Linked DNA regions of Homo sapiens. The protein of the gene in region 1 interacts with the protein of each later gene in a biochemical or structural test. Each region holds a gene or a part of one and is shown on either strand. Other genes may lie near its edges. The genes, in order: CACNA1S and TNKS.

Evidence for each region.
Region 2: the proteins of CACNA1S (region 1) and TNKS interact in a test that uses a peptide from one of them, tested with the Homo sapiens proteins (one large-scale study listed by BioGRID and IntAct).

Annotation. Positions count from the first base shown.
Region 1 is NC_000001.11:201,063,836-201,067,655, reverse strand, and holds part of CACNA1S (voltage-dependent L-type calcium channel subunit alpha-1S), read left to right. Parts: intron 1-662; coding exon 663-769; intron 770-1,339; coding exon 1,340-1,427; intron 1,428-1,710; coding exon 1,711-1,818; intron 1,819-3,820. UniProt on the Homo sapiens protein: Pore-forming, alpha-1S subunit of the voltage-gated calcium channel that gives rise to L-type calcium currents in skeletal muscle.
Region 2 is NC_000008.11:9,709,267-9,713,086, forward strand, and holds part of TNKS (poly [ADP-ribose] polymerase tankyrase-1), read left to right. Parts: intron 1-688; coding exon 689-780; intron 781-875; coding exon 876-954; intron 955-3,820.

The DNA.
Region 1 (3,820 bases):
GGCCCCTTTGGGCTGGGATATATTGCACATACAGGAGGCCTGGGTGCCGAGTCTGGGAAGGCAAATTAAGACAAAATCATATAGGTCCCTGAATGCTGGGAAAGGTTTCAACCCTGTTCGATTTTAAGGGCAAAATGCATTTGTGCAAAGGCATGGGAGATTATTAGAGAATATATCAAAGAAGCTGAGAGGGGAGCAAGAAGGCAGGTGATGGGAAGGAGGTGGAGAGGGAGGAGAGAGGGCCTAGGACCCCTAGAGTCCTGGAGGGCTTGTTCAGCCTGACTTAGCAAACCACAAGGCAGAGGGGATTGCCCAAGAAGCTTTCCAGGAAGGAGAAGTTTTATGTCCCACAGGAGACAGTAGGGCCAGGGCTCCCCCACTCTGTGGCCCCATGGGAAAGGAGACCCAGGGTTCCCTATGGCATGTAAAGAAAGAGACTTCTGGCCCAGCTGCCCGTGAGAAGTCCTCACATTTCAACAACTGCGAGCAGAGATAGGAAATGCATTTAGGCCACTGCAAGGAGTTGAGTGAAATATAGAGATTTCTGGAAGGCTATTGCCTCAGTAAGTGCTCTCCTGAGCAGAGGCGAGAAGCCCTTGTCTGTGGGAGACAGGCCTGTTCTCCAAGCTCCTCCATCCAGGCTGCTGCCTCTTTCTCCCCAGATGACGACCTACGGAGCCTTCCTGCACAAGGGTTCCTTCTGCCGCAATTACTTCAACATGCTGGACCTGCTGGTGGTGGCCGTGTCCCTCATCTCCATGGGACTTGAGTGAGCAGCGGCAAGGGCCAGCCCTGGGCACAGACCACCCTCTGCTCTGTGCCAGGGCTTTGTAGTGGGAGTCCCACCCATGTTGGTGGGCCCCTGCCACAAGAGGAGGGTCTCTCGGGGCCTCCGATGGAGGCAGGGGGTCCTGTGGGTTGTCACCAGCTGGAATGTGGGTTGCCACCAGTGAAGTGGGCAGCGCTCTGTTCTAGAGACTGGCAGGAGATGCAGAGAGGAGGAAGTGGTCCCTCCCTCCCCGACCCTGTGGGGAGCACAGCCCCTGCCTTTGGGGTGCTCACCGTCTGACGGGAGGGACGGAGCTTCTAGCCACCCACAGGGGAAGGCTGTCTTCTGCTTCATGACACACCCATGAGAGCATGGTCCAGATAGCAGGGGTGGCTGTGCCCTGGAGTCGGGCACACTCTCACGGCTGGAGGAAAGGGAAGGGGAAGGTGGGAGTGTTTTCAGGCAGAAAGGCAGCTGGTGTGGAGGGCAGGATATGGCTGGAGGCTCCACCGCAGACTGGGCTGGCTGGAGCAGGCTGCCCTCAGCCCCCTCACCATTGCCGCCCCCCAGGTCCAGTGCCATCTCCGTGGTGAAGATCCTGAGGGTGCTGAGGGTGCTCCGACCACTCAGAGCCATCAACAGAGCCAAGGGGTTGAAGGTGAGAGAGGGCCCGGGCAGGAGCCCCAGAGAGGAATGGGAGGGGTTACAGGGGCCTCCTCGCTCCAGAAACCTCAGCCCAGCCATGGCTGGGACCCCTGTCCCATCTCCCTGGGCAGATAGGGGTAAGGATGAGGCTGGGGTAGCTATGCTTCCCCACCAGCCTTTCCCCACCTCCAACTCATCAGGAGGCAGCAAGTCTTGCACTCCTGGGGTTTCCTCAACTGGGCTAGCAGGGTTACTGTGGGTGCACCCCCAGTCCCCATTGGCCCCTCTGTCCCCAGCACGTGGTGCAGTGCATGTTCGTGGCCATCAGCACCATCGGGAACATCGTGCTGGTCACTACCCTCCTACAGTTCATGTTTGCCTGCATCGGCGTCCAGCTCTTCAAGGTGAGCCCCAGCCTGCGCGAGCAGCTCCCCCTCCCGCTCCCAGCCCTGGTGCCCACTCTCAAGCACAAGGAGCCCCACATTGTGAAAACAGATGTCTTCGAATGCACAGATTTCCATATGAGAATATTTTATTTTGAAAAATAGGTCTTCACCACACCAAACACATAAGTTTGCAGAAAGCCAGTAAGACATCGTTACATTTAAATAGCACCTTGAGTTCCACAAAAGCAGCCCAATGATAATCTCAGAAACAGTCAATGGGCTTCTAACACTACTGAAATGGTAGCAGAGGGTCATGTGTCTACTGAGTTGAAATTTAAATACAATTCAAGCCCCATCTCTTAAAGCTATTGTCATGCACTTAGAATTCTATCAAACAAAACAAGAAAACGGTTAGTTTGATGTCCATCTTTTAAATATGACTATGAAACTTCAATCTATAAATACAACTCTCCTAAATCAAACTTTTAAGAGACAGCCATCTTTCAATGATGGTTAATAGCTTTAAGAGATCTAATAAGCTAAAATGAAAACCTGACAGCAACTATCTTAAGCTCTTTTAAAAATTAAATACACAAGCAACACAACACATTATTGAGACTCAAAGTGAATTTGCTTCAACTGAATGCACAGAGTTTTAAGGCTAATATGTGGCAAGTCCAGATCCAGTTTCCTCAGTGACATCCATCCCGGGCCTCTTGGTTGACTGCTGACCACTGTTGCCATTGTATCTGCTCTCTCCCTACCCCACGTGGCTTTTCCTTGGGGAGGGAGGCCCCTCCTCCCAGGGCCCCACAGCCATTCTTCTCCCTTCCCACCCTTGCCCGCTTCCTCCCATCCTGCCAGGCCTGTGCCAAGCATACGCCCTATCCCAGCCCCACACTCCGCCTCCGTCAGTGCAGCTGGGCTGCGGCAGCCCATCTTCCTGGCTGGTATGTCTGGCATCATCCACATCTACCAGGAGCCTCTAAGGCTGGGAGTTCATCATCTCACATCCGGAGCCAACCTTATACTTTTCTCATTTTCCTAGGAGAACACAGCTATTCAGTTCCTCTCTAGGAATTAGCCCTACAAAGATGTCCCTCACACAAACCCTGATTTCCAGATGTCTCTGGCTCTCAGATCATTTGCAGGACAGAGAAATTGATTCCTAAGTATACACCAACACCCTTGATACTTCCTGCATGACCCAGCTGCTCCTCCTATCACCAAAGCACGATCTTTCAAAGTCATAATTACATAACCCCAGTCAGTCTTAGACATGAAATGGCATCATCTTACAATCATTCATTCATTCAACAAACATGTATGGAGTATGTTTTCCATACTTGAGCCAGGGCCTCTGCTAGAGCTGAGGGCCTTACAAGCCAAATCCTCGCTGAGGGCAGGGAACAGGCTCTGAGAGAAGCAGCAGCGTGGAGCCCCTAGAGAATCTTCGCGGGGAATAGGTCTTGTTGGTCCCTGTCCTGGAGGGACGGGAGGGATGGGAGTGTTTATTGTGTCTGGCCACTCTGCCAGCTGCGTGCAGCCTTCTCCCCCTGGCCCAACTGAGGGCTGTCCACCTCCTGCTCCCCAGCCCCCTCCTCTGCCAAGCTTGGGTCCCCAGAATCCCCTGAGGGCAGTGTCTGTGTCTGCCTCATCCCTTTGCCTGGCCCCCTGCCCAGGGCCTGGTGCAGAGGAGGCCCACCAGACACGCTCCCTGAAGGAATGAATGAGCCGCTGCCCTCCCTTTGGCTTCCACGTCCCTTCCAGACAAGCAAGAGCAATTGCTTGTCAACACCCAACTCTCGCCATGCTTTTGTCTCTCATTAAAAGACCCCCAGCTCCTGCCTTCCAGGAGGTTCTAGAAGCATAACAGTTCCAGTTGGCATTTGATGTCGCTTTTGACTCTGTGGAAACACCACGTGCATTCCACATTATAGCAGAGTCAAGCTTTGCTTTCCATAGTAAACTGGGCATTTGGTGTTAAGTGCCCAGACCCTGCCCAGTGGCAGCTCTATCC
Region 2 (3,820 bases), on another chromosome or scaffold:
AAACTAGGGTTGAGATAGATTCAAGCTACACGGTGTTATGCTAGGAGATATTCATAGCCACAGAATAAACCTGACCCACTTTTTTGGAGTTTTCATTTTATTTAGTTGAAAGTAGTTTTTTATTTTTAAATTTTAATACGAATATTAAAATGAAGCAGAATAAAAAAGTTGTATAAATATTATGTTAAAACCTAAAATTTCTGAGAATATTTTTCTCTAAACTGCTTCAGTTCTATCATTTTCTTGCTTATCCTTGGGCATATAAACGTCTCCTGTAGTGCTGGGAGTACCTCTGTAGAAGAGCTTAGAAATACTGACTTGTGTGGCTGATGGCCTAATGAAAGATTGAGTAACTTAGTTATAGATTTCTGTAGCGTTGCAGAGGCATACGTATTATGATGCTCTCCATGGAATATATAGTGAATATTTATTGATTGGCTAAGCCAAAAGAAATAAGATCTCTCTTAATGTTTAAGAGCATAATTTCACCTTGGTTTAAACGCTTACGTTTTGTATTTCCACTATACGTAGAAAGAATATGGATCATCTCTGTGATATAAAACATATACATATGTTCTGATACTCTGAGATAACAATGTTTTAAATGGTCAGCAGATACTGTTCAATTCCAAGAGCTACTGTACATATGGAAGTGTATTTTATTAACTTGGTTTTGTTTACTTTATAGCACTGTGCTGTGGCCTCTCTGCATCCCAAACGTAAACAAGTGACAGAATTGTTACTTAGAAAAGGAGCAAATGTTAATGAAAAAAATAAAGAGTAAGTATAATTGCAGAAGGAGTTGTTCAGTTCCTAAAGAGGAAATGCAATAAAAGAGAGACAATTACCTTTTCTTTCTTTCCTCTTTTCTGTAGTTTCATGACTCCCCTGCATGTTGCAGCCGAAAGAGCCCATAATGATGTCATGGAAGTTCTGCATAAGCATGGCGCCAAGGTGAGGCACACACCTGAGCAGAGTGCCAGACTCAGCACTGAGCAGCCAGCTGCTCTTAACACTGCTTCTCTCTCTCCGATTTTTCTGAAGAAACTAATTTTATAAAGGACTATTAGTTCGTACTTAAATTCATGGATTCTCCTATAAAGCTGATTTAGATCTTGTTTCTAATAAAAATAATTACCCGTGTTTCTTGATCCTTTAATGTCACCCTTCTGTAAAGCAACAAAATATAGCTATAGTCATTTGAAATAGATTTCATCTTTACATTACTTTCAGTTAATACTATACGGATATATTTTGATAGTGTCCACTTGAATAACAGTTTATCAGAAAATAAATTATGTTAAATGATAGCATCAGAATAGCTCTACTTATTCTAAAAAACATTTGTGGCCAGGCACAGTGGCTCACGCCTGTAATCCCAGCACTTTGGGAGGCCGAGGCAGGTGGATCACGAGGTCAGGAGATGGAGACCATCCTGGCTAAGACGGTGAAACCCCGTCTCTACTAAAAATACAAAAAATTAGCCGGGCGTGGTGGCGGGTGCCTGTAGTCCCAGCTACCCAGGAGGCTGAGGCAGGAGAATGGCATGAACCTGGGAGGCGAAGCTTGCAGTGAGCTGAGATTGCGCCACTACACTCCAGCCTGGGAGACAGAGTGAGAATCTGTCTCAAAAAAAAAAATTGTATGCCTTCAGATTTGTAATAATTTTCTCAACCTCTACACTAAAGAAATATGACATATTTAATAATTTTTACTGGCATTTTCTGAATGGTGTAGTCTGAAACTTTGTCAAGCACTTAAGAGAGGAAAGAAGCAAACTGGTTGTTTTTTAGAGGTGACTTGAAATTATAGATTTTTTCATTCTCAAGAATGTATATTTCAAAGCAGTTGTCTCCAAAGTAGGGTATAGACTCCCTATGGAGCATACAAGATGCCCTGTTGGAAAAATCCTAGCATTTCAATTTATAATACTTTTATTTAAGAATAAGGAAATTCAGATTTACCAATATTGAATACAAAGATGATGCCAGCACTCTCACTAGGTCCACGTGTCAGCCATTGTGACTCGTGATGTCAAGGTTTCCTGAGGTAAGAGTGGGACTTGTTAGTATCGAGGGATTGACAGTGGCAAACTCACTTGTTTGTTCCCTTTCAGCATATTTTGGCATAGTGTACTTTACTTGTGTCCAAATGAGTTGAATTTATGGATATTATCCTAAATGGTAGAACTTTTATAAATATCATACTTGATCAGAGTAGTGACCCTGACAAGGGACACAGGGAGTGACCCTGACATGCTTTTATAGTGTAAAAAGGTGGTCTGGTTATTTTGTGAAGTAGTATTTTAAGGTGTTGTCATAGTTGTGTTCTTTTTAATGAAAATAAAAGGGTTCAAAATTTGTTAATAGTTCTCTGAGGACAAATGACCATGACTTGCATGTAGATACCCTTTAAAAAGGAAACATAATCAGATCCTTAAAGGTAAAAGTTACACACTTTAGGTAAATGATAAAATAACTGCTTTTTTAAAAGAAACTTTAAAAAATGAAGAGAACGTTTTGAACATAGATTTTTAGAAAATGTTCACTTTTCTGTGATTTTGCTGAAAAATGATATAAATGAATCACCCAGCCGTCATATCTACATAATTTAAACACATAAAAACAGAATTTTCTCACCTGTTCAAAAGCCTTCCTTAATTTGGTTTTAGGGTAGATTTTGAATCTATTCAAAACATTGTAATGCAGCACTTCCTAATAACTTCGCAAGAACATCAGTAAAGATGGAATTTTACTACAGAATTTCAATGAAAGCCTTAGCATAATTAGTAAATTACATTAAAATTAGGCATTCTGATTGAGTAGGCATAGTTAACAATGCATTTATTTCATTGGCTCCATGAATCTGTATGAAATCTTTGCAACTAATATAGCCATTCAAACTAATTATCAAAAATGAACTTAGAGCCACGTGTAGTGGCCCGTAATCACTCCTGTAATCCCAGAGCTTTAGGAGGCAAAGGCAGAAGGATTGCTTGAGGCCAGGAGTTCGACACCAGCCTGGGCAACACAGCAAGACACTATCTCTACAAAAAATTTAAAAATTAGCCAGTCGTGGTGGTGTGCACCTATAGTCCTAGCGACTCGGGAGGCTGAGGCAGGAAGATCACTTGATCCCAGGAGTTTGAGGCTGCAGTGAGGTATGATCATACCACTGTACTGCAGCCTGGGCAACAGAGCAAGACTCTGTCTCTAAAGAAAAATGAAATGAACCTAAAATTAAACCCTCAAATTCCTAATATCACAATTTTTATAAGTTTTTTTAAATGTTTAAACTACAGTCAATGGATATTTTCTAGCATAAGTAATTAAAATATGTTTTGGACAGGTACCATAGCCTATGCCTTAATCCCAGCACTTTGGGAGACTGAGGTGGGAGGATCGCTTGAGCCCAGGATTTTGAGATCAGCTGGGCAACACAGGCCAACCCCGTCTCTACAAATAATAAAAAAAAATAGCCAGATGTGGTGGTGCATTCCTGTAGTCCCAGCTACTCGGGAGGCTGAGGTGGGAAAATCACTTGAGCCCAAGAGGTCGAGGCTGTAGTGAGCTGTAATCATGCCACTACACTGTAGCCTGGGTGACAGAGCAGTACTCTATCTCAGAAAATAATAATCATGAAATCTTTTTAAATTTTTAATTATTTCATCTCTTTCTCATCCTTCATAAATTCTCTTTGTGTAAGTTTTATAATAGTATAGCACTTCTTGGTTATAATTTACAAAGAAATTCATATATATATATTAAGTGTTCTCAAAACTTTTCTACCTGGAGGGTGTGTGATTTAAAAATTTGGATAT